Linked DNA regions of Homo sapiens: regions 1 and 3 are each linked to region 2. The links come from fine-mapping of genetic effects on gene expression. A gene starts in region 2. Each other region holds a variant in brackets. All regions are shown on one strand. Distances are from middle to middle.

Evidence for each region. PIP is the estimated chance that this variant, and not a neighbour inherited with it, causes the effect.
Region 1: its variant is fine-mapped to the expression of DAP in whole blood (TOPMed, PIP above 0.99).
Region 3: its variant is fine-mapped to the expression of DAP in whole blood (TOPMed, PIP above 0.99).

Annotation. Positions count from the first base shown.
Region 1 is chr5:10,862,381-10,872,635 of GRCh38, reverse strand. No RefSeq gene overlaps it. Among named protein-coding and RNA genes, the nearest start is that of CTD-2154B17.1, 80 kb to the right of the region's middle. The variant T/C (reference allele first, on the strand shown) is at 4,110.
Region 2 is chr5:10,755,448-10,765,702 of GRCh38, reverse strand. It overlaps DAP (death associated protein), which reads left to right and starts at 4,469. Exons shown (of 4, transcript NM_004394.3): 1 at 4,469-4,689. The coding sequence starts at 4,635. DAP-DT (DAP divergent transcript) reads right to left here and starts at 4,667. Exons shown (of 3, transcript NR_187555.1): 1 at 4,487-4,667. RefSeq lists silencers at 3,934-4,403, 4,484-4,913, 8,960-9,049 and enhancers at 3,566-4,411, 8,660-8,739.
Region 3 is chr5:10,789,728-10,799,982 of GRCh38, reverse strand. No RefSeq gene overlaps it. Among named protein-coding and RNA genes, the nearest start is that of CTD-2154B17.1, 7.8 kb to the right of the region's middle. The variant T/C (reference allele first, on the strand shown) is at 4,833.

The DNA.
Region 1 (10,255 bases), 110 kb before region 2:
CTCACTGCAACCTCCACCTCCTGGGTTCAAGCAATTCTTGTGCCTCCACCTCCTGACTAGCTGGGATTACAGGTGCCCACCACCACGCCCAGCTAATTTTTGTGTTTTCAGTAGCAATGGTGTTTCATCATGTTGGCCAGGCTGGTCTCGAACTCCTGACCTCAGGTGATCTGCCTGCCTCGGCCTCCCAAAGTGTTGGGATTAGAGGCATAAGACGCCACACCCGACTGGTTTTTAATAAGGACGTGGTCACATTTCATAGTTTGTATTCTACGATGGGGTCGGCTGAATAAAGGCCCCCAAAGATAGCCAAGTTGCTATCCCTGGAACTGTGAGTGTGACCTTCTAAGGAAAAGTGACTGCAGAGACAGAGGCAGAGGTTGAGGTGATGCACTTTGTGGATGGAGGAAGGAGCTACAAACCAAGGAACAAAGGCGGCCACGACAAGCTGGAAAAAGCAAAGAAATGAATCTTCCCTGGAGCTTCCAGCGGGGTGTGTGGCTCCACCAACGCCTTGATTTCAGCCCAGTGATTTCAGACTTCTGGCCTCCAGAGCTGTGAGAGAATACCTTTGTGTTATTTTAAGCCACCAGCTTTGTGGCAATTTGTTACGGCATTCATAGGAAACTCACACACAAGATTTTCAAACACTGGAGAGGAAACGTCCACGCTTCCTACACATGAATATGTTGGCAAAGCCTGGCCACATAGCGAATTCAGGCAGCAGCTTCATGTAAACTAACTCACCCAAGTCAGGCTACAGCGAGATCATCCCACCCGCATGATCATGACGGGGGTTTATTTGCCTGGCCCATTACCTTCCACGCTGACATTTACTGGACCCTGGATAGAAAGTTCCAAAATTCAAAGCCTGAATTCTGTGGCTGAATACAATTTCTCTGCTCAGGTAATAATCCAAAGCAGGTTCATAAATCAATACATACATGCTAGGACTCCAGATCAAACTTTGGCCAGTGTGTGTGACAGGGTAGATCATTAATAAACGTGAGTCTTAATGAGGCTATTTTTTAAGTATCAACTACAATCACCTCTGTTCAAACTGAGATCTGCTTGATTTATTATCATTTTTACTGTACATTAATGAAAAATAAGTGGTAAAATTTTTTAATGTGTGAATTAAGGAGTTTCATATCCCTGAAATCACTCTTAATTCGATAGAATCAATCATTTTGAATACTTATAATTGTCTGATTGATGATATTTACCTTAATGGATCTTTTGCCCTAACAAAAAATTATTCAGAGATGCAGTACCTACATATATTTATTCAAAAGATTTTTCTCAGGTGCAATGAGGGTAATACATAAACACTCCAGGATTTTCCAATGTAATTTGTAAGGTCTTCCTTCCAAAGTATCAGGTTTTGACCTGGTTCTTAAAAAACTGAATCTAGAAAAGGATACTTAAAAAGCCAGACTTTCTAGTGATGAATTTTTATCATTTTCTTGGTGATTAGTTTATGCATCATCTCTCCCTTTCCTGGATATTTTAGCTTTTGGCGATGTCTCCCTGTAGAACGAGAATGTGTGAATTTTTAGGGCATTTGCTTTCAAAAACGCTCTGGCTTTTATAACAGGGAAGCCAAGAAGTATGTGTAAAATGGGATTAAAGCGGGAGAAATTGGGCAAGAATTCACTACACCAATAATTCTCTTATGACATCTGCCATGAGGATGGGAAAGTGCATGTGTCGACGACGTTTGTGCAAGAAATTCAATTTCAACGCAGCTTCCAAAACCGTCAGCACGTCGCCCATCTAACAAAGCTCCTCTTCCCCTATCCTGTCATCTTCCTAGGTCTTTATTGTTCTTGCCAGCTCAAAAAAGCAAGCCTCACCCTAACTTTCTAAACAGGACCATATAAACTGCATTTTCAAATGCCAATTTCTGACTGCAGACAAGGTGGAATATAAAATCATGGAAAAAAGAAAAAATGACAAAACTCTATCCTGGCCCTGTGATGACTGTGAAGATTGTTTGCTTATCATGCTCCAATGACCCCTTCTTGACTGTATTTCTGATGAAATATAGAGGGTTATACAAAAGAGAGAGGAGGAGGAGAAGGAGGAGGTGGGAGAAGAGAAGAAGGAACTGGATGGCGAAGGAAGCTGTGTTTGGGATTAAAATAGTTGCTGCTTGCCAGGCACAGTGGCTCACACCTATAATCCCAGCACTTTGGGAGGCCAAAGCATGCAGATAACAGGGTCAGGAGTTTGAGTCCAGGCTGGCCAATACAGTGTAACTCCGTCTCTACTAAAAAAAAAAAAAAAATACAAGAATTAGCTGGGCTTGGTGGCGGGTGCCTGTAATCCCAGCTACTTGGGAGGCTGAGGCAGGAGAATTGCTTGAACCTGGGAGGCCGAGGTTGCAGTGAGCCAAGATGACGCCACTGTACTCCAGCCTGGGTGACAGAGTGAGATGCTGTCTCCCAAAAAAAAAAAAAAAAAAATGCTGCTAGTGTTGACTCCCACCTTCCGGTCCACTTTGGACATTGCCAAGGGGAATTCTCATGTATCTGAAGGGGTCCCCAACACCCTGATGCTCTTGTCAGTCAACCCCCACCCTCTGCACCCACCCACACCCATATATGCAGTTTTCTCTCCACAACAGACTTAAAGAAACCATTTAAATAGCTCTTCCAATGCTGCATTTTTAAAAAAAAAATCTAATTTTTCCTTAAGCTTTCTCTTTCCTTTCCTGTTCCCAGCCCTTGCTTTGTTTATCCAAGTTTGTGTAGCAAGAATGATAATAATGCCTATCTTTGATTAACTCTTAGTATGTGCTAGTTTCCATGAAAGGGCATTATCTGTTTGCTTTCTATTACCCAGCACAGGAGGCATAATTATCACCTTTTTGCACCTCAGCAAACTGAGATTCATAGGATTATAGTCGCCCAAAGTCAGATAGCTTGCCATTGAACTTGCCCTCCCCTGGAAGTGTGAGCCTTTACCACTCTTGCCTCCCAGGAGATGAGAAGTGGCACAGAATGGCTTTTATGGAAGAAGAGTTTATAGGGCTGCAGTGCCAATTGATTTCTTTTAATTTTATAGATGTTTTATAAGTTCTCTTCTGAATTCACACTGAACCTCACACAAAGTATAAGGCTGTAGTCAAGTTCAAGGTAGAGAGGAAGGAAGGAGGGGAGGGAGGAAGGAAGGAAAGGAAGAGTTTAGGATAATGTTATTTTAAACCTAGGAGAAAATTCTACAAATAGCCTAAGTTTCCATCCACCTTTCCCTAAAATAGATCATTATTCTGATGATTATTTCTCCAAATGAATTGAATAAAAAGAGAATTGCCCTGTTGTAGGTTTTCCCATTGGCTTTACATCTCTGAAGCAAAAGCTGTCAATTTGTCAGAGGATCTATTCTTTACAGCTTATTGAGCCTGGGGCAAAGAAACTCAGCTACGGAGAGCATTAAATCAAGCTGGGGCTGGCCTCGGCCACGTTCCACAGCGGCTGGGATGTTATGCACGTTGTGGAAGACTCCACAGAGAGACGAGGGGCTCGGGTGGATTCTACCTCCTGTTCTCTAAGGGCCAGTGCCAAAAAGATAAAATAACTGTCTCAGATGAGAAGTTTCTGATTTACTGCTATTTTTTTTCCTGTGTTCACAGAATGGAAAAAGCTGCTTTGAAGCCATTGTTTTTCATTGGGTTTAAGGAGTTGAGTTTATAAAACAAATAGCTCTGCGATAGTAAGCAATGTGCTAAGAGATGAAGCCCCAGGAAAGCTCCATTGGGCCAAATAAAAGCTTTGAATCCAGGGGAGTAAAGGCAGGGCATTTGTCATCCAGATTTAAGTAATCGACTTTCATTCGCCCCACCCACCTCCCCAGGTAGCAGGTGCACTCATCACACAGAATGTTATAAAGGGCGCTGGCAACAGCGGTAGGAGGAGGATGAACTGACCCAATAAAGTATTCCCAAGGCCTGTTGGGAAAGACAGTTGTAAATGGAAAACAATTACTGCTAATAGGGTAAAGCACTTGTAGTTTACAAAGTATTTTCACCGGCCGTATCCATTCGTTTGATCTTATATTTACAATTTCCAAACACACAACTCCCATGGTCCTTCTGGGAGTTCCTG[T/C]CCTGAAACGCATCCTCTGAGGCTGGGTTCTCCCAGGAGGCCCTGAGCAAGGACCCAGGCCCCGGGGATTTCCTGAGGATGTTCTCCCGCAGGGACAGAAAGAGGTGGGCAAAGCCAAGTAGGGAGGAGGAGAAGCCAGCAACAGTGCATTTTCAGGGGTGGTCACGGACTCAGCTTCAACCCAAGGGGCCCCTAGAGTATAGGTTGTGCCTTGGATTCTGTCCCACCCTTAGCGACGGAGACAATTGGCTTTTGAACCATGGGCAACTCTTGTGGGAGGCGAGGGTAACCTAAACATCCAGGCCCTTCCATCTCCTGCAAGAGAGTTAAGGTTGGTTCACAGATCCGGAAAAGGGCCCTGGAGAGGCACCAAGGCCCTCTGCTCCATGTGCCCCCCCCTCTCCGCACCTGCTCCACATACCTTGGCTGTCCTCCCTCATAGCACTCCTCTGTGAACCTGAGGAACTCCTGCTAGTACTTCAAAACCCCGTCCAGGTGTTAGTGACACATTCTTTGATTGCCAGTAACCCAAGCAAAAAACCTCTTCTTTGATGCTCTTCCTTTGACTGGAATATCCTTCGAAGAGCTGCACTTGTCGTTAAAATTTTAATGACTCGTTCCCCAAGGGCCACAGTGTTACTGGTGGAGGGTGTCCAGGTTCCCAAGAATTGGACAAAACACACAAAGCAAGGAAAGAATGAAGCAACAAACAGAGAGATGTGTTGAAAGTACACTCCACGGTGTGGGAGCGGGCCTGAGTATAGGGGCTCAAGAGCCCAGTTACAGAATTTTCTGGGGTTTAAATACTCTCTAGAGGTTTCCATTGGTTACTTGGTGTACGCCCTATGTAAATGAAGAGGATGAAGTAAAGTTACAAAGTCATTTACTTGGTGCACGCCCTATGTAAATGAAGAGGATATTTCCTGTCATAGCTGAAGCATTTCCACTTGATTTAGTTCTGGGAAGTCCTTAGGTTCCCTGCCTCCAGGCCCTCTTCTCCTAGTAAGCTTGATCCCAGGGAACAGACATTATTGTATTATCTTTATTGTAGTTGTATTATATAACTACTTTATGATAGTTGTACCTATTTGGGGAGTACATGTGATATATTGATACCTGTACACAGTGTGTAATGATCAAGTCAGGGTAATTGAGATATTCATCACTTCAAACATTTATCTTTTCTTTGTGTTGGGGACATTACAATTCTCTTCTAGCTCTTTTGAAATATACAATAGATTATTTCAACTACAATTTCTCTACGATTAAATACTACAACTTACTCTTTCTAATTGTATTTTTGTACCCATTAACCAACCTCTCCCAGATATTAATGCTTCTCTCTAAGACCTTAATTTTCCCCAGTGAGGCAATGGGGAAAGCGAGCCCCCTGGCTGCGGTTTACTGAGGTGGTGTTAAAAGACTCCCAGTGACAGCAAAGTTTGTTTGCCAAGTCATTCTTCTGAAGGGGACCATGTGAACAAATCCCTAAGAAAAGCTAATGCCAAGTACTCAGCATCACCCTTCAGAGCACAATACACGGTACTTCAAGAGTTTTAAAAAGAGAGTTCCTCAAAAACTCAAGCTGTTTTTATTTTCCTGGATACTTATGTAGTGATCATATCCATTGTGAGGTTGCCCTCGGGATGTTGGGATTTTCTAAGGAACGTAAAGTCCCCAAGATTAAAGCAATGTTGTAGTCAAGAAGTTTCTCTTACTTTCACCCCATATTTAGGTGTATATTTCACTGATGTTCCAAGTATAGAAACACATTTAGCAAATAATTTTGATCTTTGAAGAAGTTCTCTTTTCAACTTTATCAGGCAAGTTCACAGATGCATTTTACAAGGCAAATCGGGAAAAAAAAGGAGATCAATTCTACTGCCGAGAAGGAATCTAGGTCAATTTTATAGATTCACACTCAAATGAAATCCACACAAGAACAAAATTCAAGACATTGGTTAAAAGAAAAATCATACCAAGTACCAAGATAAGTTAAATTGCTATATATGTACAGTTCGATAAATTGAAAACATCCTAGATCTTTACCAAAATTAATTTCTCTGGCATCTTACAGAAGCATCTGTGGGCTTCCAGTAATTTGTACTTTTAAAAATCTTATACAACAGTGTTCCTACAAAAAGAAAGTAAACACTTGCAACCAAAATTTCCATTTTTGCTCGTCAAGATTTCAATCGATTTTACTTGAACAAGCTGTTTTCGTTCAATTCACACTGATTAACATTAGCCCAATCGCTGAAAACTTTGTGGTTCTGGGATACGGGTTTTAATTGTCTTCATAATGTACTTGGAAGGTCACTGGGGAAATTGAACACAAAAGTTTTCCTATACCATGTGCTGACTAAATAAAGAGCCCGAGCAGCATGTACCTCAGCAATCTCAATCTCAAATTGACCTCCTTTTTGTTTTCTCTTTTCTGTTACAGTGTGTTTCTCATCCTTTTCTTTTTCTGTCAATATTTATGTAGATGTCAACTATATTCTTGCCTCTCTGTAAGTACTGCTTTTCTCTAGGGCTCTCTCATGAAAACAAAATTTCAGTCAAAATTGTTATTTTTTATCCTCCCTCTGTTCGCAGCAAGCACGGGTCTTAGATGCAAAATGTACGGGAGAGCCAGAAACTCAGAAATCAAAATAAAGAATGTCTTAATGCAATGTTTTTAAAAATAAAAATGAATGTTAAAAAAAGAACTCATGATTAATAAAATATCCAAATTGTGGCTGGGCACGGTGGCTCGTGCCTGTAATCAGGCCTCCCACTTTGGGAGGCTGAGGCAGGTGGATCACCTGAGGTCAGGAGTTGGAGACCAGCCTGGCTACATGGTGAAACCCCGTCTCTACTAAAAACACAAAAAATTAGCTGGGTATGATGGTGGGTGCCTGTAATCCCAGCTACTCAGGAGGCCAAGGCAGGAGAATCGCTTGAACCCGGGCGTTGGAGGTTGCAGTGAGCCGAGATGGCACCATTGCACTCCAGCCTGGGCAACAAGAGTGAAACTCCATCTAAAAAAAAAAAAAATCCAAATTGTAATTATTCAGCCCTGATAGAGGCTCTGTGGTGGTCATCAGTAGTCCTTAGTGCTCCTGGGAATGTGATAGAATTCCTGGCTCCCTCGAGGACATAAGTGGGGCCATGTGACTAGTTCTGATCAACACATTGCAAACAGAAGTGATGAGCGTCACCTCTGGACAGGAGCATGTGGCTGCCAGTTCAAGACCCTCCTAAATTTTTCTCTTTTTCTCTCATGCACAGCAACTGGCAAATTCCCAGACCAGCATCATTGTATTGGCCAGGAACCTGCACACCTAGGGTGAGCAGAAACTCCCTAGAAAGCCACTGTGGTCAAGAAGTCTGAGTGAGGAATGAGCCTTTGTTACTTCAAGCCACCTAGTTTCTGGGGAGTATCTGTTACAGCAGCTGAGCCTCTCCTGACTGACTGATATACACATTAAGCAAGGTTTGCACTGTGGAAATCCTCAGTTTCTCAAGTGAAAGAAATGAAGCCGTCCCCAGCATCCAGTCTTACAGCTGGAACTTCTTGCCTAGAAAGAGCAAGATGCTGCTTCTCTCCTTCCCTAATTTCCTGTAGATTTTGTTCTTAAGACTGAGAGCTTTGTAGATGGACAATTAGAGACTTTAAAAACTTGTTTCAGTTGGGCACAGTGGCTCATGCCTGTAATCCTAACAGTTTGAGAGGTCAAGGCTGGTGGATCACTTGAGGTCAGGAGTTCAAGACCAGCCTGGCCAACATGGCGAAATCCTGTCTCTACTAAAAATACAAAAATTAGGCCAGGCACGGTGGCTCACGCCTGTAATCCCAGCACTTTGGGAGGCCGAGGCGGGTGGATCACGAGGTCAGGAGATCGAGACCATCCTGGTTAACACGGTGAAACCCTGTTTCTACTAAAAATACAAAAAAAACTAGCATGGTGGCGGGCGCCTGTAATCCCAGCTGCTCGGGAGGCTTAGGCAGAGTAGTGTGAACCCAGGAGGCGGAGCTTGCAGTGAGCCAAGATTGCGCCACTGCACTCCAGCCTGGGTGACAGAGCAAGAGTCCGTCTCAAAAAAAAAAAAAAAAAAAAAATAGCTGGGCGTGGTAGCAGGCACCTGTAATCCCAGCTACTTGGGAGGCCGAGGCAGGAGAATCACTTGACCCCGAGGGGTGGAGATCGCAGTGAGCCGAGATCACGCCACTTCACTCCAACCTGGGTAAAAGAGCGAAACTCCGTCTCAAAAACAAAAACAAAAACAAAAAACTGGTTTCACCTCTTACAAGCACCTAGGATGTGAGATAGCTCATGAGCAAAAACTTTAGTTGCCAACCTGTAAAGTGAAATTCGAAATACCTCCCACACAGGCAAATAATGGAATTAAATGAGATAACACAGAAAAACACCTGGAACACAGCCAATAATTGACACATTTTAATCTAATTGCACTCAAGGTGTGACCGAGATGCTCATTGCACAGCAGACCACATCATCCCCAACTTAGGAGGCCCAGGACCAGGAGACAGCACTTTAGCAGTGCCCCCTGGTGGTTATGCCGAGAACTACCTTAGGAAGCCCTGGGTTCTTCCTTTCCCCCGTGGTGGTTGCTACGAGGCCGACCCAGTGGCCTGGGTTGTTGTTTTATGGATAAATTTATTTTCTTTGCTGAGATGGGCTCGGGAGAAGAATCACTAGCAATTCAGTTTGCAACAACCTCGAAAAGTGGAAGAAAACAACAACATGGCTTTGGAAAGAAAGAGTCCTGACATGCTAATATCCCTTACCAGTTTTAATGCATTTAGAAAAGGTGGATGTAATGCTATGGTCCAAATGTTTGTGTCCCCCAAAATTAATATGCTGAAATCTTCACCCCCAAGGTAATGGTATTAAAAGGTGGGGACTTTGGGAGGTGATTGGGAGCCCTCATGAATGGGATTAATGCCCTTATGAAAGAGGATTGATAGCGATCCCTCAGTCCTTCCGCCATGTGGAACACGTGGGAGGCAGAAAGAAGGTACCGTCTACAAACCAGGAAACAGGCCCTAGCCAGACATTGAACCTGCCAGTGCTTTGATCTTGGACTTTCTCAGCCTCTAAAACTGTAAGAAGTAAAGTTCTGTTGCTTAAAAGCAACCCCATCTATGATATTTTGTTATAGCATCCTGAACAGACTAAGACATATAAGTATGCCTGAGACCAGCAAAACCTATGGGTTAAAAAAAAAAAAAAAAAAAAAAGTTATGGCTGGGCGTAGTGGCTCAGGCCTGTATTCCAGGCACTTTGGGAGGCCAACGTAGGGGATCCCTTGAGGCCAGGAGTTCAAGACCAGCCTGGCCAACAGGGTGAAACCCAATCTCTACTAAGAATGCAAAAATCAGCCAGGCATGGTGATGCACGCCTGTAATCCCAGCTACTCAGGAGGCTGCGGCACAAGAATCACTTGAACCTGGGTGGTGGAGGTTGCAGTGAGCCGAGATCGTGCCACTGCACTCCGCCTGGGCAACAGAGCGAGACTGTCTCAAAAAAAAACAAAAACAAACAACCGTTACTCTCATGAAGAATTCCATAAAACTAACAGGTTGGTACCCAGTTATTTGGAGTATCATGTTAGCACTAAATTATCATTTTTTCATATTGAATCAAAGAGAATAAATGTTCCAATGAATCTGAGCAATGAAGGGACAGCTTAGGAGCTGCAGACTTTCCTTTGCAGGTATCACTCAGATCTCATTCTAATGTGGGTAATCCAACTCCTGCCTTCATTCAAACAACCACACTTTGAATTTCTACATCTCCTTGGACTTGCCATAATAATCAGAAACCAAGAGGGTCCTAGGGCAGCAAACTGGAACGAGAAGGTGGTGGGACAGGAATTAGCGGGAGATCAGACATGCAGGACCAGAGACAGCCACCTAAAAGAGAAAATGGGACTGAAGAACAGAAGAAAGCCTTAATTTCATGTCAACAGGTTGATGACATCACATTCTATTTGCCATTTTAGTCAAGATTAACTGCAAAAAGGTCCTCTCCATGACCTTAGATGCCCTACTTACAGAGGCTGTCCTCACAACTTAGGAGTGCAGAGCTTAGCGACATTTTGGAAATCTCCTAAGGTTTAATCCTTAAAGGAATTAC
Region 2 (10,255 bases):
CAGTTCTCGGCAGTGGTGTTGTAGGACTTTCTTGTTAGCCTAGCTAAAAAGAGCGTCCTTGTCACATAACCACGAAAGATTAGGCTCACAGACACTTTGAAGGGTGGGGAAAATGGAATTTATTAGGCAAAAAGGAAAAAAAGGAAACAGGGACTTTCAGCAAAGCAAGAGTCCTGCTAGCCGGTTTCCCGCGTCACAGATTGAATCCCAGATTCCACCCGGGAAGAGGTCAGGCTCCTCTCCCCTGTAAAGGGCGTGAACTTCTGTGGCTCCACCCCATCTTCCGGTGTGCAGGTAGTCAGAGTTTCTCTGCGGACCCCTTTATGCTTGGCTGTCTCAGTGGGAGTGGCTAACACAAAGTCCCAAGGGGAAGAATTGGCTTGTCCTGCTAGAGGAACCTCAGAAAGGCCAGTGTGGCCAGAGGAGCCAAGAGGGAGGAGCTCACAACTGGGCAGGACCCCCATCATGCAGGGTCTGGTAGGCCATGTGTGCTAGGGGTTGCATTTGGCTGCCCATGAAGACACCAACCACAAGGACTTTATTTAATAGAAATTTGTTTCCCACACAACAAAAAAGTCTGGACGAGGAGTCCACAGCTCTGAAGCGCCTCCATGGACCCTCAGATTCCCACATGCCTTTGACCTTCCTGCTCTGTCACCTTTAGCTTGTGATTTTCATGCCTTTGATTGCCTCACAGTTGCGATATGATTGTTCTACCTTTGGCCTTCTGTCTGAATTCAAGGTGGTACAAATGATGTCACCAGGAGGAAGGGGTGTCCCCATATTAAGAATGTAAATTTTCCCCAAAACACCCCAGCAGATTTCCATGGTCAAAACTGTGTCACTTGGCTACCCCTAGCTACAAGGGAAGCTGAAAAATAAATGTCTTTTTTTTGCGAAGTTCACTACCTTCTTAACAGTATTTCCTTCATTAGAAATGCTATTGAGTAGACAGATTATTCCACACTGTAATGAGTAGCTTGGATTGTATTCTAGAGGAGAAGCTATTTGCCGATAGGTGGGAAATCAAGAGTTCTTTGAAGATGTAAAATTAACTTGGCTGTCACACTGTCAGGAGCAGAATGTACCTGAATCACGTAGCACCCAAATATAATACGTTAGTGGCAGTGAATCTGTACAGGTCTGCAGCAACCTCAATTCTTGCCTCTTCAGAAGGAAGAATTCAACTGAGGGGTATAAAGCAGAAAGAGAGACTGAGGCAACTTTAAAGGAGGAGTGAAAGTTTATTAAAAAGCTTTAGATCTGGAACAAAAGGAAAGTACACTTGGAAGATGGCCAAGCAGGTAACTTTAGAGATCAAGTGCACGGTTTGACCTTTGACTTAGGGTTTTATACATTGGCATACTTCTGGAGTCTTGCATCCCTTGATTCTTCAGGGATCAGTCTTATCCCCTGATTCTTCCCTTGGGGTAGGCTGTCCACATGCACAGTGACTTGCCAGCGCTTGGAAAGTGAGCAGGGGCAGTGTGTTTATTGGAAGTGTACACATGCTCACTTGAGGCAATCTTCCCTTACCAGCCTCATGTTCCTAGAAGGTCATATACCAGTCAAACGTTGCCATTTTGCCTCTCGATGTGTGGCAAAGAGATCTTACCAGGAAGCTGCTGACCACCACTTTCAGGTTTTTTCTATCTACTGGGAGACTGCCTTTCCCTGGCACTGACTGCAACCAATTATTATTTTAGAGAAACAGTGTAACAACTTCCTGACCATCACCTGATGGTCACACAACATTTCTGGTGGTGTGGGTTGTGGGGGAAGAGTCCTCTCCTGCCCTGCTCAGGCCGACTAGCTACCTACTGTAAGACAACCAGAGTTTCCCAATCAGTACAAACCTGGAGAACAGGTCACAGGCAAAGAGACACAACCTGTCAGACCTCAGGGCAGTCCAGGGGCCACCAGGGCCCCTCTGGAGCTCTGCTCCTTCCTGTGAAGGCTTTCTCCCCCACCCCCCAGGGTTCCTTACCAATAGCATTTGTTATTGAGTCTAAGATGCTGTGGCTCGTAACATGCAACTTTGTTTTAGGTACCACTAAGGGTAAAAACACTACCAATTAAATGATACCACAATGTGCTCTTTCAACTTAAAATTTTCATTTTATACTTCCAAGAAATAATTCTTTAGGCTTAAGACATACGACATAAGTTTTTAACTATATAGCACTTTTGCACATACATAAAAAGGAAGTTACTCATGAAATTAATCAGTTAGGTATCCTTAAACCTTTAAGAACGTGAGTGATGTGCTATCTCTTTAAAGAGTAACCCAGTATTAATTTCAGGATTCTCTTCTAAACTGCTGGCACCCACTTGGAAGTTTGGATGTGAATGCAAGACAATGGCAAGCATATCATGACTGCAGCCTGGCCAACAATTATCCTATTACCGGTGTTGAAATGTGTGTATGGAGTGGGGAATGCAAGACCAATGTATGCTATGTGCATCTCCATGTGTGCCCTGATGCACAGAGTTGCGCAGCACTGAGTTAGACAACAAATAGAGAAGCCAAGGTGGCGGTGGTGAGTTTGGAGTTCAGTGGAGGGGCAGAAAGAGAGAAATTAAGTTGCAGATGTGGCACCCATAAGCGTCTGCAGGTGGTGGTGGTGGTGAGTCTGGAGTTCAGGGGAGGAGCAGAAATAGAGAAATGAGGTTGCAGATTTGGCACCTGTAAGCATCTGCATGATAGTCGTCCACAGGCTGCATGTGACTATCTATGGGAAGTCTAGATAGAGAAGAAGGCCAATGCTGAGCCTTGCGATACTCAAATGTTTATAAATCTAGAAGAGGGCGAACTGCCAAGCTGACAGAGTGAGCAGCCAGGGTGGCCAGAGAACTGGAGGGTAAGGCAGTGATGTGGCACCTCCGGAGCAAAGGAGGAGGGGGACGGCCAGCTGCATCAAGTGCTGCTAAGAGCTCAAATAGAATGAAAGTAGAAAATGACCATTGGATCTGGCAGCACATAGGTTATAAGTGACTTCCACAAAAGGACCTCCCATGGTTGAGGGCAGTGCAGCAGAACTTGATGAAAACCAGACAAACTGGACTGGAGGGAGTGACAAGAGATGAGGAGCTCAGCCTCCCTGAACAGTTTTGTTGTCAAAGGGAAAAGTACAGCCAAGCGAGGGGTGGTGTTTCCTTCGCTAAAGAGATTAGGCCTGTCTGAATGCGAATCCAGCAAGGCATTGCGGAAGTTAACAGCAGTTGCAAAACACTGGGGCAGGCGGGAAGAACACGATCCAAGGCACGAGAGCCAGGGGTCAGCCACGGCAACAGGAAGATGATGGTGAAAACCAAAAGTTTCTGAGAGTGGTCTCAATTTAGGAAGTTTATTTTGCCAAGGTTAAGGACGTGCATTGACACAACCTCAGGAGGTTCTGATGACATGTGCCCAGGGTGGCCAGGAAACATCTTGGTTTTATACATTTGAGGGAGACATGAGACATCAATCAATACGTAAGATGTAGGTTGGCTCTTTAGGAGGTAAAATGTGAAGTGGAGGCGTCCGGGTCATAGGTACATTTAAAGGTTTTCTGATTGGCAACTGGTTGAGAGTTATCATCTAAAGACCTGGACTCAGTAGAAGGGAATGTCCGGGTTGCATGAAGGAGTTGTGGAGACCAAGGTGTTATCATGCAGATGAAGCCGGGAATACACTGCAAATGTTTCTTATCAGAGTCCTCTATTAGTCTTAGGGTCTCCGTGCGGATGTTTGTGAGGCCATGTTTGACTTCCGCTTCCCATCAAGGCCTGAACTAGTTTTTCAAGATAACTTAGAAGGCCACAGGCGGAGGGGAGGGTCCATCCGTTGGCTGCAGGGCTTAGAATTTTATTTTTGGTTCATAACGAGGAGGGCAGGGACAGAAGCCACCGTCTCTGCTCCCCAGCGCTGGCCCTCACTCGGAAAGCAGGCTCTCCCCTCGCATCGTCTTTTAACAAATTCCTGCTCTCTCGGCCCCCGTCGCTGCCATCTGGGCTCTCCTTTCCGCGCTTCATTAGGCGCTGCCGCGGCAGGGGCTGAGGGCCTCAGGGGACGGTCGCCTCCCTGCCGGGACGCCCCGGCCCTGGCCCGCACTGTGGGGCGCAGTCACCCAGCCGTCGCCGCGTAGCCAGGAGCCCGGCTGAGCGCGTTCGCTGCAGGAGCCATCCTCAGCTGGGCCCTACTTAACTTTCCGCAACTCCAGTCCCCGCAGCCAGTCGGGGACCCCGCCTCCCTCTCCTTCCTTCTCCCTCTCACTTCTTCACCCCTTCTCTCCCCTCCCTCCTCCGCCCCCGCCCCCGCCCCCGCCCCCGCCCCCGGCCACAGCATCCGACGTGGCGCGGCCGGCTGCGCACGCACCGTATGCTTGGCTCGCGGCCCAGCAGGGCGGGCGGGCCGCGGTGACGTCAGTGCGCATGCCGTCGGTGGGCTCGGCTGCGCCACGTCGGCGCGCGGCGGCCGCGCCCCCTTAACGGCAGTGGCACTCACCCGGCTCGCGCGGCCCCGGCGCCCCACGCGCGCGCGTCGTTCTCCCGCCCGCTCGCTCCCCGGCGCTCACACCTGAGCTCACTCGCGCACGCCCGCCCGGCCCGAGAACCGCGCCGCCGCCTCGGCCCCGCGGAAGCCCCGCCGCGTCATGTCTTCGCCTCCCGAAGGGAAACTAGAGACTAAAGCTGGACACCCGCCCGCCGGTACTGACTCTTTTCCTCTCTCTCCACGCGCGGGTGCCGGGGGCGGGCTCGAACCCGGGGGCGCCGGGCGGGGGCTCCGCGGGGAGGGCCCCGGCGAGCGCTGAGACGGGTTCCGGGCCTTGATGCCCGCCCGAGGGGCGCGGGCCGCGGAGAGGTCGGGCGCCCAGGCCCGGGAGGAGCCCGCCGGAGCTTCGGCCCCGCTTGCCGGCGGCGGCGAAGCGTTTCTTCCTGAGGACCGCGGGCGGCCGCGTACCTGTGCGATTGCGCGCAGGCTCCGGTGCCTTGGGCGAACCCAGTTGCACAACTTATAACAAAGTTTTGGCGGATAATATTTACTTAGAGGATACAGATGTCTAGAAAGAAAGTAGCAGAAGCAATGAAAAGTCAGTGGTGTTAATATCATGGTGATGATTAATTAGAGGCTGCCAGCGTTTCATACCGACTCAAGAACCAAGGAGCGGAAATAATTTTTATCATTAATCACTCAATATGACTTTCACCGCCAGTTTCTTCCACATCCAGATTTTTTTTTTCCCCCAAAGTTGCTTTTTCTGATTTTGAGCAAATCCTAAACTTCTGAGCCAAGGAAGTTAAAGCCAGGAAAGAGCGGTCTTTCTTAGAACATAGGGATCTAAGCAGCCTTCATGCTTCTGCCACCTCCTCCTCTCTCTGGGCACAGTTCCTGTTTGCACTTTGGATTCTGTCCAGACGGGTCTGTTTCCGTTTCTACTCTCCTTTCCAGTGGCAGTCGGCCCATATGGAGGGACACTGGTGAGAAGATCAAAGGCCTTGGGTCTCAGAAGCCAAGTCACTTCAATGTATGGATGCGTGAGGTTCTTTTAGGTCTTAATAGCACGCCTTAGTGTCATAAACTCAGTCTTGTAGGAACAGAAGTCTTTGAGAAACATGGCTTCTTTTGGTGGCACATTTGCGCCATTTTCTTGACAATAAAGATTCCTGGCCAGGCGCGGTGGCTCATGCCTGTAACCCCAGCAGTTTGGGAGGCCAAGGAGGGTGGATCACTTGAGGTCAGGAGTTCAAGACTAGCCTGGATAACATGGTGAAACCCCATCTCTACTAAAAGTAGAAAAATTAGCTGGGCATGGTGGCGGGCGCCTGTAATCCCAGCTATTCAGGAGGCCGAGGCAGGAGAATGGCTTGAACCCGGGAGGCAGAAGTTGTAGTGAGCCAAGATTGAGCCAAAGCACTCCAGCCTTGGCGACAAAGCGAGCGAGACTCCATCTCAAAAAAAAAAAAAAAAAAAAAAAAGATTCCCATTATCCTTCTCTGCTGTCCTCCGCTATAGGGCGGGAATTCTCTGCACCAGCACAATGAATAGGAGCCGTTCTTTAAATATGTTGCAGTCCAGAGTAGGCAATATTTTTCAGTGGTGACGGAGGCTCTCTACAACAAAACTAACTGGCACTGGGAAAGAAAAATGTCTAACTGATGCCAGAGAACTTAAGAGGCATGGGGTTTTAGAAAATCATTCCACTGTGATGGAAAATGGTTTTGGGGGAATTTGTGTTGCATTGGTTTTAAGAAAAAAAGTACTTCAAAGGGAGTTTTTTTTTTGATGGGATTTCTTTTAAGGATAACTGACTTCCATTCCACCACAGCGGGTCCCTGTCCACTGTGGGGAGGAGCGCCTTGATTTCCACCCCGGGCAGGGCTGCCTCCAGGAACTGCAGCAGCCACCTGCTCTGGCCCTCCACTCCCCAGGACATGGGTTACATTAAAGCGTATCTGTTGGAATGATACAGAACCAAAGTACAGTAATTAAATTGCATACAGAGACACACCCATAAAGAAGTTTTTTGTTTTGTTTTTTGAAACAGAGTCTCACTCTGTCACCTGGGAGTGCAGTGGCACGATCTTGGCTCACTGCAACCTCCGCCTTCTAGGTTCAAGAGATTCTCCTGCCTCAGCCTCCCGAGTAGCTGGGTTTACAGGTGCCTGCCACCACACCTGGCTGATTTTTGTATTTTTAGTAGAGACCGGATTTTGCCATGTTGGCCAGGCTGGTCTTGAACTCCTGACTTCAGGTGATCCACCCACCTCAGCCTTCCAAAGTGCCCATATGGAGATTTTTAAGGTCAGAGGTATAAACTGTACATACTCACTCCCTGGGAGAAATTCCTTGCTGGACTCTGGTTTTCTTTGAATTGCAGAGTAAACAGCTAGGCTTTGTGAATTACAGAGTAAGTAGTTTATTTACCCCTGAGGAGGGAAGAGGCAGCTTATTTGTGCTAGTGTAGCAGTGAGCTTGGGTTCTAAGTTTGAAGACATCACTTCACGCTTCACTGGGGCTCAGTTTTTCTCCTTTATGAAATTCGAGGTTTGGGCCTCGGGGCAAGTCACAGGGTGGGGCTGTGTTTGCTGCAGTGAGTCTCACGTCCCGCTTCAGCATCAGGGTACCAGCACTGTTCATCCCCCAGGTAAACTCCTCTAGTAACTTCAGGGCAACCCCTTTAGACTTACGGGGTGAGCTCTTGCGGGTGGCTGTCACCATCTGTCATCTGTCTCCAAGACCATAGTTAGAGGAGGGGCCCAATAGCAGCACCCCTCAAATGCCAGCAGCATCCCTCAAATGCCAACAGCACCCCTCAAATGCCAACAGCACCCCTCAAATGCCAACAGCACCCCTCAGATGCCAACAGCACCCCTCAAATGCGCTTTCCTAGATGTTACAGAGGACCATGTGTGAACCTTTTCTGGCAGGAAGCTCTGGTGTTCTTGTTTAGTCTGGCATTGCCAGAGAGTAGGCAGCTCTGAAGGGTAGATAGTTTTTAAAAAAAAAAAAAAAAGGCGGCCCACTACACTAAAGGATAATCATCAAGGATAGCCAAGAGCACAGTTCATAAATCAAAATCACTGCCTTAAAAATGTTGAGAATGCTTTCATTAAGTGCTTAAATTGGATAACAGACTTGTGCCTCAATGCTCAATCAGAAATAATAAAATTCTCTTACAGTGACTATCTTAATGTTCTTTTGTGTCTTCTCTTTGTTGCTGTCTGGCCCATATCTCCTGTACATTCCCCGCAATCCCCTTGTTTTCCTTCGTGCACTAACCTTCGCCTCTCTGCCTGTCTTCTTGCTTCCAGGGCTGGGTCTTCTTGATCTCTTTATTCCCGGGGTGGCACAAAATACTCAATAAGCACTCCAGAGTTTCCCCAGGGCCTCTTCTCACCCCTCACTGCCCCCATAGCAAACCGGGCCCACACCTTCCTCAACTCTGAGCTCTCTGTACTGTGCGCAGGGATGCAGGTGGTCCTCTTGGCCGGTTCAGGCAGCAGACTGGTGGAAACACTAATGAAGTTTGTTGAGTGTCACAATGTGCTGACACACTTCTAAGCGCTTGGCACGTTTAACTCATGAAATCACCAGTCATCTTAACATTGAGATACCGAGGACAGTGCCGTTTAAAAACCTGACCCAGAGCCGGGTGTCGTGGCTCACGCCTATAATCCCAGCACTTTGGGAGACCCAGGTGGGGAGAGCACCTGAGCTCAGGAGTTCAAGACTAGCCTGGCCAACATGGTGAAACCCCGTCTCTACCAAAAATACAAAATTAGTCGGGTGTGCTGGTGGGTGCCTGTAATCTCAGCTACTCTGTAGGCTGAGGCAGGAAAATCGCTTGAACCTGGGAGGCAGAGGTTGTGGTGAGCCAGGATCACACCACTGGACTCCAGCCTGGGCAAGAAGAGCGAATATTTCGTCTAAAAAAAAAAAACCTGACCCAATTGTTTGGAGTGTCTGTTGCCAACTCCCCTGAGCTAGTGACCTAGTGGGAGCGGCCGGAAAGGCTGTTGCCTTTTGGAACTTCAGCAGCCCGACAGACGACTCCATCACTGGCCAGGTGCCTCCTCCCAAGGTGGGAGACGAATGAGGCAGTTTGTAAAGGCTTCTGAAGAGTGTTAGAGAAAGGTGCTGTGCAAATACAGGTATTGTTATTTACAAGTGATGGATGGCACTGCATCATGTCCTGGCAAATGTGCTGTCGTCTGCAGTCCTCTGTAGAAGTAATCCAGCCTTAATGATTTGAGACCTTACCACTGCTCTTGACTACAAAATATTTGCAGAGAAATGGGGTGAGTGCTTGTTTGATGAGTTATTGCAAATGCAGATTAGCAGAGTTAGAATTAGCGAGATTCTTTCTGTTTCATCTAACAGCAGTCATAGCATTCCACAGCAGAAAAGAGGACCTAATTATAAGCCTCGCTATTACTCATTTCTGCCAGTCTTTGTGAGTCTGTGGCAGTGAGATGTGTAAAATCTCTTTGTTAAATACATTTTGCTGGCCCTGTTCCCCTCCATTTCCCAGTGGAGCCAAAACCATGTGTCAGTAGAGTTCTCATAAATCTGCTACATGATAGCTTTGAATGTTACTAATCTTACATGTGGTTTTCTTTGAAAAGCAGACTCTACATCCCCTCTCAAAGTGAATTAAATGGAAATATAAGCACGATTATATTTATTTCAAGCCATGTTACTTTTTTTAGTAACTTCAGAGTAACTTAGTTCTCTCTTACACTAATTGATACGTCAGACATGAGTTAAGGATGCCTTTCAAAAGTCTAGTGTAATTCTCCCTGAATTATCTCCCTGCAGAAAGACTTTCAGATTATCCATTGCTAGAAACAGAAGACTAATTTGTCTTCTATTAACCCTGTGGTCACAGATTTGCTAAGCATAGTCCCAGTGTCAACCAGTCAGGACCAGAAATTGAATGGTCCAGGTAAGAGGTCTGCCCTTGTTCCCAACATGCCAAGGAAAACAAGACCCTTTAGTTACTATCTTTTTTCAGAAGCCTTCTGTCAAGGTGGCCCATGGCATTTCACCTCTTCCCTAGCCTTTTTTTGTTGTTCTTGTCTAGACAGGGTCTCTCTCAGGCTTGAGTGCAGTGGCGTGATCTTGGCTCACTGCAACCTTGGCCTCCTGGGCTCAAGAGATCTTCTCGCCTCAGTGTGCTGAGTAGCTGGGACTACAGGTGTGCACCACCACAACCAGCTAATTTGTGTATTTTGTGTAGACACAAGGTTTTACTATGTTGTCCAGTCAGGTCTCAAACTCCTGGGCTCAAGCGACCTGCCCACCTTGGCCTCCCAAAGTGTTGGGACTCCAGGCATGAGCCACCGCACCCAGCCTTCCCTAGCCATTTTTGGTTATCTGTGACTTCTAACGTCTTTGTGAGTGTCCTTTTCATTTCGGCCAGTGCCCTGTGCATTCTTACTTGGTTTTGTGACTGCTTTTCCCTTCCCAGCTTCAGAAGTTTTTTTTGTTTCTATAGAGAATGTTCACTTTTGTATAAAGTACTATATTAGGTATAGAGAATGGTACTTCCTGTTGTAACAAACAACCTAAATTCTCAGTGGCCAAACTAATCCAGGTTTATTTCTCTCCTGGGTGGGGTCTTCTTAACAAAGAGCAATTCAGAGGCCCAGACACCCCTTGCTGTATAACACTAGCTTTTCATTGTGTGGCTGCTGCTGAGGGGACAAGTGTAGGTCGCCGTGCTGGGGTCCGTATGGTGTGGCCCACAAGTGGTATGCATCATCACATCAG
Region 3 (10,255 bases), 34 kb before region 2:
ATGTAGGATCTGTGAGGGAAGAACATTTCTGTATGCTGTGGCAATATATAAAACAAAGGAGTAAAGGACATGGAGAAGGAAGGGCTGTCAGAAAAAGAGTAGAGAGACAAAGACAATTAATAATTCTATATTTTTGCAATGTTGTCTCCAACCTTAAAGCTTTGAGATTGTCATTAGAGTCCTTAAAAAGCTATATTTCCTTTCCTTGAATATATATTTTTCTAGCATGTTGCCAACAAGTTGTGGCAACTGCCTTGACTTCATTCCCATGGTTCACAAGGGACACACTTTCTCAGAGATCCGTGTTTCAAACATTCCCTTGGAGTTTCTAATATAAAAAATTTTTCACTTTATGATTATGTATCTGGAAAATTCAAAAGAATCAAAGGAAAAGATACTATAACACTGAGAGCAGTGTTAGGAAGGGAGCAATTTTTAGAATTAACAAAGAAAAATAAATACTCATCATATATTGTAAACAAAAACCAGTAAGAAGATAGAAGAGACCACCACATTTGTGGTAGCAAAGAAGTGCCCAAAACCTGCATGAAGAAAACCATAAAACACTCACGAGAGAGGCACAAAAGTAGACTTGAACAAATGGAAAGACACTCCATGTCCTTGTATAGGAAGACTCAGCATAAAAAAAAAAAAAAATCAGAACTCACTAAGCTAACATATAAATGAAATGTAATGTAATACAAAGTTGAAAAATTCCCAAGTTTTTTACCTAGGCCAGACAGGCTGATTATATAGAATGTATTTGTATTAACATACGAGTAAGCATAGCAGCTTAAGAAAGGAGAGGAATGGCAGGGAGGGTGGTGGAAAGACCTCTCAGATATTAAAACTTCCTACAAAGCTGCCATCATTTCAAAAGCTTTATATTAATGCTTAAATAGGTACACATGATTCAGAATATAAACTCTAGAAACAGACTTATGTGATTATTAAAATGTAGTATACAATAAAGTCAAAATCTGAAGTCAGTAGGGAAAAGATAGACTCTTTCACAGGTGGTGTTAGGATAACTGGATAGCCATATGGAAGAAAATAAAATGGAATCTTTACTCATGCTATATGATAGGATAAATTTCAAATGGTATGTATTTAAATGTAAAAACGAAACCAAACCATAAGGTACTAGAAGGAAATGTGGCTGAATTCCTCTTTATCCTGCGAATGAAGAAAACTTTCCTAATTATGACTTGAAATCTGAAGCATTAAATATAACATTTGATTAATTTGATCACCAAAAAACCTTTTTTATGAAAAATTAACAGCATAAGCAAAGTAGAAAAGGGAAATGATAAACTAAGAAAAAACACATGTATCAAAAGTCAATAACAATATATAAAAGAGATTCTAAAAAGAGAAAAAAAGGCTCACAACTTGACCAACAGTAGTCTAGAAATATGAGCAGATAGTTTATGAAAGAATTAATGTGACTGACTCTTAGGCACATGAAATGGTGCCCAACCTCACTTATAATAAAGGAAATTAATATTATACTAAGATGACATTGGATTTAAACACATCAAATATGATTGAATTTATATGTTCATAATGATACATGTGGGCAAACAAATCTTCATTGATTACCTCTGGAAGTTGCCTGAGAACCAATTCATTTTTGTGAAAATCAGTAAGTAAAAAGAATCAAGCATTTGTCCTGCCTTTCCTAAATGGACTGTCCCTCAGTGTAGTCAAAGAGGTGGTAAGGGGAGCTTTCTTTTTATAGAGCTGTTCTAGCTAATAAATAAAGAATGATAAAATTTAAATACCTATCACCGTTTTGCAACCCCTAACGGAAATCATGCCTTAGAAAAACCCAAGTTACACAAAGTATGCTCCTTTAGCTTGGCTATCCCACTTCTATGCTCTTAGCCAATGATATTCTGGCAAAAATCTGAAAATGTATAGGCGATTCATTGCAGCACTATTTGTGAGACTGCATAAAACTTGGAACAATCCAAATGTCTGTCAATCAGGTACAAGGTGAATTAACTGGGGTGCATATAGAAAGTATTAGGGTACTATGCAGCTGTTAAAAAAGACTAAGAAAGATTTCCATTATGAAGTGATCTCCAAGATTTATGGTCCAATGAGAAAAGCAAGATGGAGAATAGTAAATACAGTAGTCTAAGAAGGGGGATTGAACATATATATAGAATTTGCTTAAAATTTAAAGTAAAAGAAGATAATTGTCTTTAGTGGTTGCCTTATCGAAACAAAAGGGAGTAAAATAGAAGGGACAGGAATAGAAGCCGGACTTCTTTGAATAAATCTTACCTTGTAGTTTTAACTTTAGAACATAATTAGAAAACAAAATTAATTTCTATAAAATCAATCTCTAAAAATCAAAAATAAAGTGAACTAAATGAACTTAAGTGGCAACCAGTTGATAGCATAACCACAAAGAGGAACTATTCCAAATGCCGTTAAAATACATTTCCAACTGTACATCTCCAGTGACAAATCTGTAAGGCAAAAATAACTTTGAACAAATTTTAAACTGTTTTCAGTAAATACATTGCTCCCACAAGTTTTGATATTGCGACATGAAACTTGTGTCTGCGTGTCTTATGGGATAATGCAAATGAGTCATTACTTTGGTGTCACTGAGAATCTGACATTTTAGCATAGAAAAAAATACAATTGTAATATTGATGAAGCTAAGTAAAAACTCTGTGGTCCTAACTTTGAACTGGAAGCTTCAGGACATTCACCAGGTAAAGTTTATCTTAAACAGCAAATAAACAAACAAGTAAACAACCAAAAAAATGTTTTGTCTCTGTCTGTTGCAAGTCCTAGAATCAATGACCAGCCCAGTAACAATAAACATCCCTAGCACCCAGGTTTTATCTTGACATTGCATTTCCCATTAAAACGAATATGTGCTCCTTGGAGAGTGAGTTTTCCCAAGCCTGCGGTAGACATATATAAGAAGAGTCTGGAACTTCGTATTATGCTAGAAAGGAAGGAAGCTGCCAAAGACTGCTAGGGAGCTATCAAAAAGACTCAGAAGCCAAGAGGAAACAACCAAATGTCCATCAACCAATGGATGGATAAATACAAAGTGGTACATCCACAGAATGGAATATTAATTGGCAATTAGAAGAAATGAAATATTGATACATGCTACAATGTAGAGGACCCTTGAAAACATTTTACTAAATGAAAGCAGCCAGTCACAAAAGACCGCCTATTATATCATTCAGTGTATATGAATTGTCCAGAACAGTCTCGTCTAGAAAGTGGATTAGTGGTTGCCTAGGTCTGGGGGTGGGGTACAGGGATGGAAGAGGTAGGTGGAGGGAAATGGAGAATGACTGCTGGTGGGTACAGGGTTTCTTTCGGGGATGACAAAAATGTTCTAAAATTAATTGTGGTGATGGTTGTGCAACTCTGTGAATATACTAAAAACCATTGAATTGTGCCCTTTAAATGGGTGTTTGTACTGTATGTGAATTATATATCTCAATAAAACTGTTGAAAAATATTCAGAGGCCAAACTGCCCAAAGATGGCAAATTTGATCCTGAACCTGTCAATATGCTTACATCCCTAAGTTCACAATTATACTAAGAGGAAAAAAAAAAAATCTTGATTATCTCTGGAGAATGTCTAGAAACAAACTCATTATTATTAAAATCAGTACATGCTATGATCTGAATGTATGTATCCCCAAAAATGCATACATGGGAACCTAAGACCCAGTGTGATAACAGTATTAAGAGGTTGGCCTTTGGGAGGTGGTTAGATTGTGAGGGCTCTGCCTTCATGAATGGGATTAGAACCCTTATGAAAGGGCTCTGGGGAACTAGCCAGGCCTTTGGCCCCTCCATCTCTCCTGCCACATGAGAATACAGTATTGATCACCTCTGGCAACAAGGCTCTATCTTGGAAGCAGAGAACAGGCCCTCATCAAACAACAAAACTCTAGGTGCCTTGATCCTGGACTTCCAGCCTCCAAAATGGTGAGAAATGAGTGTGTGTTCTTTATCAATCACCCAGTCTCATGTGTATTGTTATAGCAGCCTGGAATGGGCTAAGATAGTAAGTAAACAGAAAAATCCAAGCATTTATCGTGTCTTTCCTAAATGAACTGTCCCTCAGGGTATTAAATAGGTGACTGGCAGAATCTTTTTCTTTATAGAAATAATTCAGCTAGTGAATGAAGCGTGAAGAGTTAGGCCATCACCATTTTGCAATCCCTTATGAATTAATGGATTTAGTCAATCAGGGATTGTTTCTGTGTGGCTCTCAGGCCAATGATGGAGTTTCTATAAAGAGTGGTGAAATAAAACAAAAAAGAATATACAACAGAGACCACAGGTGGTGTATTGGTCCATTCTCACACTGCTATAAGAACTGCCCGAGACTAGGTAATTAATAAAGAGAAGAGGTTTAATTGACTCACAGTTCTGCATGGCTAGGGAGGCCTCAGGAAACTTACAATCATGGTGGAAGGCAACAGGGATGCAAGGCACCTTCTTCACGAGGTGGCAGGAAGGAGAATGCCTAGTTAAGCAGGGAAGAGCCCCTTATAAAACCATCAACTCTCGTGAGAACTCACCATCATGAGAACAGCATGGGGGAACCACTCTCATGATTCAATTACCTCCACCTGGTCTCTCTCTGAACACATGGGCATTATGGGGATTACAATTCCAGATGAGATTTGAGTGGGGGCACAAAGCCTAACCATATCAGGTGGCCTGAAAAGCCAGAACATCTACCATCTGTCTCTGTACTGAAGCATCCTGCCACCTTCAGTGCTCATCCGCCATGTCCAACCTCACAAGGAGCCGCGAGGCATCCTAATGACTT[T/C]CAGCGGAAGGAAGTGCAGCCCAGCACAGAGCTACCTTGTCAGTCACCCAACACCATCACCATGGCCAGTGGTCAAAGACAAAACATAGAGATACAAAAGGCCAATGTCCTCACCTCAAAAGGGACCCGATGGAGCTGCCATGGGATCCGGCAGAAGTTGGTCTCCAGCAGAGGCCACATCCCCACCTAGCCCCGTGCCTTCCACCGTGTGTCTTCCTGATCCCTCCTCCTCCTAAGAATTCTGGCTTCATGAATCCCTCATGTAGTCTTCCCCAGCTCCAGTTCTGCTTCTGGGGAACTAAAGGCCCTTGGCATCAGAGTGAGAGGGTGCAGGGGTGGGGAGACCTTTCGGTGCCCATGGCCCCTTCACAGCATGGAGGCATCTGCCAAATTCCACCAGCGCAGCAGGTTCTGATTTCACCCCTGTCTCAGGGTCTCCAGCTTGATTTCTCCCCTCCCAGAAGTAACTTCATGGCTTTGACATCAGGGACACGGGGGCAGCCCCAGAAGTGAAGCAGGAGAACTGGCAACACTGTCAGGCAGGTTCCAGGGACATGACTCCACCCACCCTTCTCTACCGAGCAGTGGCAGCAACACGGATTCCAGAGGGACACCAACCCGTCTTACTCCCAGTGGATTTCTATCCTGCGGCACTCCTAGTTTCCTCCGCCATACACAACTTCTCCATCCATCTCAATGTGCACCACATCTGGGGATGCCTGGGGCTCCTTATAGAACCTACTCAAGTCTTTGTCAGCAAGCCTCTCTAATGTGGCAGAGGGGAGAAAAAAGAAAGGAAAAGAAAGGAAAACAAATTATTGCTGCTTTAAGACTCATAGGAAAAAAAAAACAGGTTTCCCCACTAGATTTCACATGGCTAACAGTTTTAGCTCTCATTTCTTTCTTGCAGAAATGGAAAGAAAGGTTTTTTTTGTTTTTCCTGATTTTGTGAGAGTCTGGAGAGAGAGGCAACATTTTATTTGTCGTTTGTACATTTTAGCTCCGTGTGGGTTCCTTGTTCAACTGACGGCCCAAAGAGCCATCAGTGAGGGGGAGAGTACGCAAACCACTTTGCCTGTGATCATTTTGCAGCAGGTCTGGGCAAAACCACGCTTGCAATGTATTAATGATTTCTGCATGTTTGCAGAGCAGATGGTTTTTAAGGGTATATGTGTGCTCTTGGTGGCCTGCCCCCTGCTGAACAGTGCTGCTCAAGTTCCACCAGGCATCTCAGATTCCAGAGTAAAAAGACCTCACAAAACCTCTCCATCCAACCAGCTTTCCAAGGCAAAGCTTCTGTTGAGTTGTCTCCAGGGGTCAAATGTCTTCCATGTAAGAACACATTTCAGAATATTCAACCGGAATTCTATCTTAAGTAGACTTAGAATGTATTTTCCGATATAGCTGCAGTGTCAGGGGAGCAGCATTCTCTCTTCTATTCAGTACTTCTCCCACCCAGGGTTTCAACTTCCTGCAGGTCATCCTAGGGTTGACACAATTTGAGTCGTGTTTCCTATTTCTTTTTTTCCATAGACATAATTTTCATTTTTTGACTTATTTTTGATCCTATTTTCCAATCTGGCCTGTCATGTTCATTCCATTCGTGTTTGTGAAAATGTGCTACTTGTCTAGTCCTCCTAGATGACACGCTGAAAGGTGAGCAAGTCAAATAGGAAGGCAACTGAGTGCACACCTGAATAGAATACGGGGCAGGTCTGATCCCGGCATGAGACTTTTACAAATGATGATGGTGTTACCCTGGTGGAAGATGTCTGAGTTACTGGCGAATCCATATGGGCCTGCAGCAACCTCAATTCTTGCCTCCACAGAAGAAAGAATTTAGCCGGGCACGGTCGCTCACACCTGTAATCCCAGCACTTTGGGAGGCCCAAGCAGGTGGATCATGAGGTCAGGAGACCAAGACCATTCTCACCAACGTGGTGAAACCCCATCTCTACTAAAAATACAAAAATTAGCTGGACGTGGTGGCACATGCCTATAGTCCCAGGTACTCAGGAGGCTGAGGCAGGAGAATTGCTTGAACCCGGGAGGCAGAGGTTGCAGTGAGCCGAGATCACGTCACTGCACCCCAGCCTGAAGACAGAGCAAGACTCCATCTAAAAAAAAAAAAAAAAAGAAGAAAGAATTTGACTGAGAGGCATAAGGTAGAAAAAGAGACCAAGGAAGTTTTGGAGCAGGAGTGTAAGTTTATTTTAAAAGACTTTAGAACAGGAAAGAAAGGAAAGTAGGCTTGGAAGAAACCCAAGCGGGTGACTTGAAGAACAAGTGCGGTGTTTAACCTTGATGCTAGGGCCTTATAGGCTGCCCCTTTTCCACGATTCTTCCGTTAGGCTGGGCTGCCCACATACACAGTGCTCCCCTTACCCTTGGGAAGTGAGCACCCACAGTGTGTTTAGGAAGCTGTGCACATGCCCATCTGAGGCTTTCTTCCCTTTCCTGTGGGGTGCCCTTGGAAGGTCATACTCTGCCATTTTGTCTCTTTATGTATATGCTCAGGAAGTTGCTTCTCCCTGGTGTCTGCATTCAGTGAACACTTTAGTGCAACAGGTGTGGGCCAGCAGGAAATGGCCTCTCCCTGGCACTGGCTGCCAATTTACCATTTTTAGAGAGGCATTGTGATCGTTGCTGAACCATTACCCAACCTTCCTAGTGGATGGGAGAGCCCTCTTCTGCCCTGCTCATGCTGTCTGACTACCTGTAACAATGAGGGAGGTGAAAAGGAGGGACCCAACTAGATTGTGGCTTTAGGAAAGCATATGCCTTTCTAAAGGAGATGGCACTGTGGCTGGGTTTGAGTGATGGACGTGATTTCAACAGGTAGAAATGGGAGGGGCGTGATGGGAAATGCAAATATGTTTTTTGCAGAGGGAACAGCCTGTGCAAAGGCGAAAGGCAAGGAAGCACAGCCGTGTTCCCTGGATGGGAATCAGCCCAGTGTGAGCTGAAGCCCAGAGCATGGATGGTAAGCAAGCGGGACAGTAGAGGCAGGTCCACGCCAGATCAGAAGGGCCCTGAGAGGTGGGCCAGTGCTGCCTCACTGTTAAACAGCCAGAAGCCACTACAGAGCTTTCAGCAAGTGAGTGGCTGGATTGTACGTAGTCTGTGTTTGCCCGCGAGGCCTTCCATAACAAAGTGCCACACACCGTGTGGCTCAAACACAAATTTATGTTCTCACAGTTCTGGAGGCTGGAAGTCTAATATCAAAGCGTCACTAGGTCTTGTTTCTTCTGAGGCCTCAGTCCTCAGCTTGTAGATAGCCGTCTTCTCCCTGTGTCTTCACATGGTCTATCCCTGTGTGTGTCTGTGTCCTAATCACCTCTTACTATTAAGGACACCGGTCAGATTGGATTAGGGCTCACCTCAAAGACCTCACTTAAATTTAATTGCCTCTTTAAAGACCCTACCTGCAACTACAGTGACATTCTGAGTTACTGGGTTAGAACATCAACGTGTGCATTTGGAGCGACACAGTATTCCACCTATAACGTAGTGTATCTTTATAAAAAATGCACTTAAAGAAGACGGAGACAACAGAGAAGGAGGCAATGTTGTCATGGAGGCCACTGGAGGCTGGCAGAATGAGTCCAAGGAGAAACAATAAACAAACAGGGAATGAGGACTTCAGAGATTTTGTCAAGATGGATGTTTAGGACTTGGCACCTGATGGGTGCTTCCTGTGTGGGAGGGAAGAACTAAAGATAACTCCATTGGAACTCCACGAGTCAGCTTGAACCTGGCACAGACCTTTGCGTAACAATAGTTTATCAATAACTAGGAAGGGAAGGATGAATGGATCCATGGGAGAGCTGATTTGGGCAGGGACTAAGGTGGGAGGCACACTTGCTCTCAACAGTACTTTTGTATTGCTTGAATTAATTTATTCAACAAATCAAATTCAATTCAAAAAATCAAAAACAAAATAAAAAATAATATATAATTGCAGAACTTCAAGGAGTTTTCCATTCTGGGCTAGTTTTTCATATCACTGGACTCTCTCCCTGACCCCAGGCATGTTTGTTGAGGACCGCCTCTGAGAAATCATGCCAGAGTAGAAATTGCAGTTGTCTAAAGTGAAGTCAACTACTAGAAAGAAAAGAAGAAGGAATTCACAAGAACCACAGCAAAGCAGTTATTTATGGAGAGCAATTTGATATTAAGAGGATTAACCCTGGGCTCTTCCAGGAAGATTCAGTTATTAAGGTCCATCTCACCTCCCAACAAAGCCCAACACAAGGAGCTTCAGGTTGTTAAACTGATTGAATGAGATGACACCTACCAAGTGCTTAGTACCACACCTAGTGCAGAGTACGTGCCCAGCAAGTGTTAGCTAACATCCTGTCATGCATTACATTTTGGGGACCTCCTCGGTGAGTTACATGGAGCAGAGGGTGCAGCCATTCTTGGTCACTGCCCCACAGCTCTTCCCCCTATTACTTGCCAACAGAACCCCAGCTGTGTCCAGGGACTGGAAGGCCTTGAGCTTCTGGGGGCTGAGCTCCCCCTCTAGCCCTAGAGTGAATTGGGATTGGTCTCGGCCATTCATAGTCATTTTACTCCCCTTGTTGGTGGCTAGTTTAAGATTGTGTGATGGTTACTGTTGTGTCAACTTGACTGTGCCATGAGGCATCTGGATATTTGGGTAAACTTTATTTCTGGGTGAGTCTGTGATGGTGTTTCCAGGTGAGATTAGCATGGGAATTGGTAGACTGAGTGAAGCAGATTGCCCTCCCCAATGTGGATGGGCCTCATCCAATCTGTTGAAGGCCTGATTAGAACAAAAGGCTGAGCAAGAGAGAATTTGCTCTCTCTGCCTGCCTGACTTTGGGCTGGGACGTCTCTCTTCTGCTTTGGACTCATGCTAGAACTTAACATCATTAGCTCTCCTGAATCTCAGGCCTTTGCACTGCAGATCTGGGGACATTTCAGCCTCCATAATCATGTAAGCCAATTCTTTATTTTATATATATACACACACACACAAACACATACACACTTGAGTGTATGTACATAAATATATCTATCTCCTATTAGTTCTGTTTCTCAGGAGAACCCGGACTAATACAGCTTGGAAAGAGATCACAGTCATGGTCAAGGGCAGTGGAAGTAAGAATCTGCTGGGGAACCTCTGGGAAATTATCCCTTACTCTTAAAAAGGGACAGAGATGTTGTCATCTACATGGCATGCCTGGAATTGTCATAGCCATCTCTGCATCATGAGGGAAGCCAACCCTAAAAGGATAAATCAAGCCCACGAGGATCGCAGAGAGAGAAGGGGGGAGGAATTGAGTTTTAGAGGATTTTGTTGCACTGCTGAGTTAACCAAGCCTGGTACTGGCCTATCTCTGAACTTCTTGTGAAGGAAATAATAAATGACCTTAGCTTCTTTGTTATCTGGTCTATTA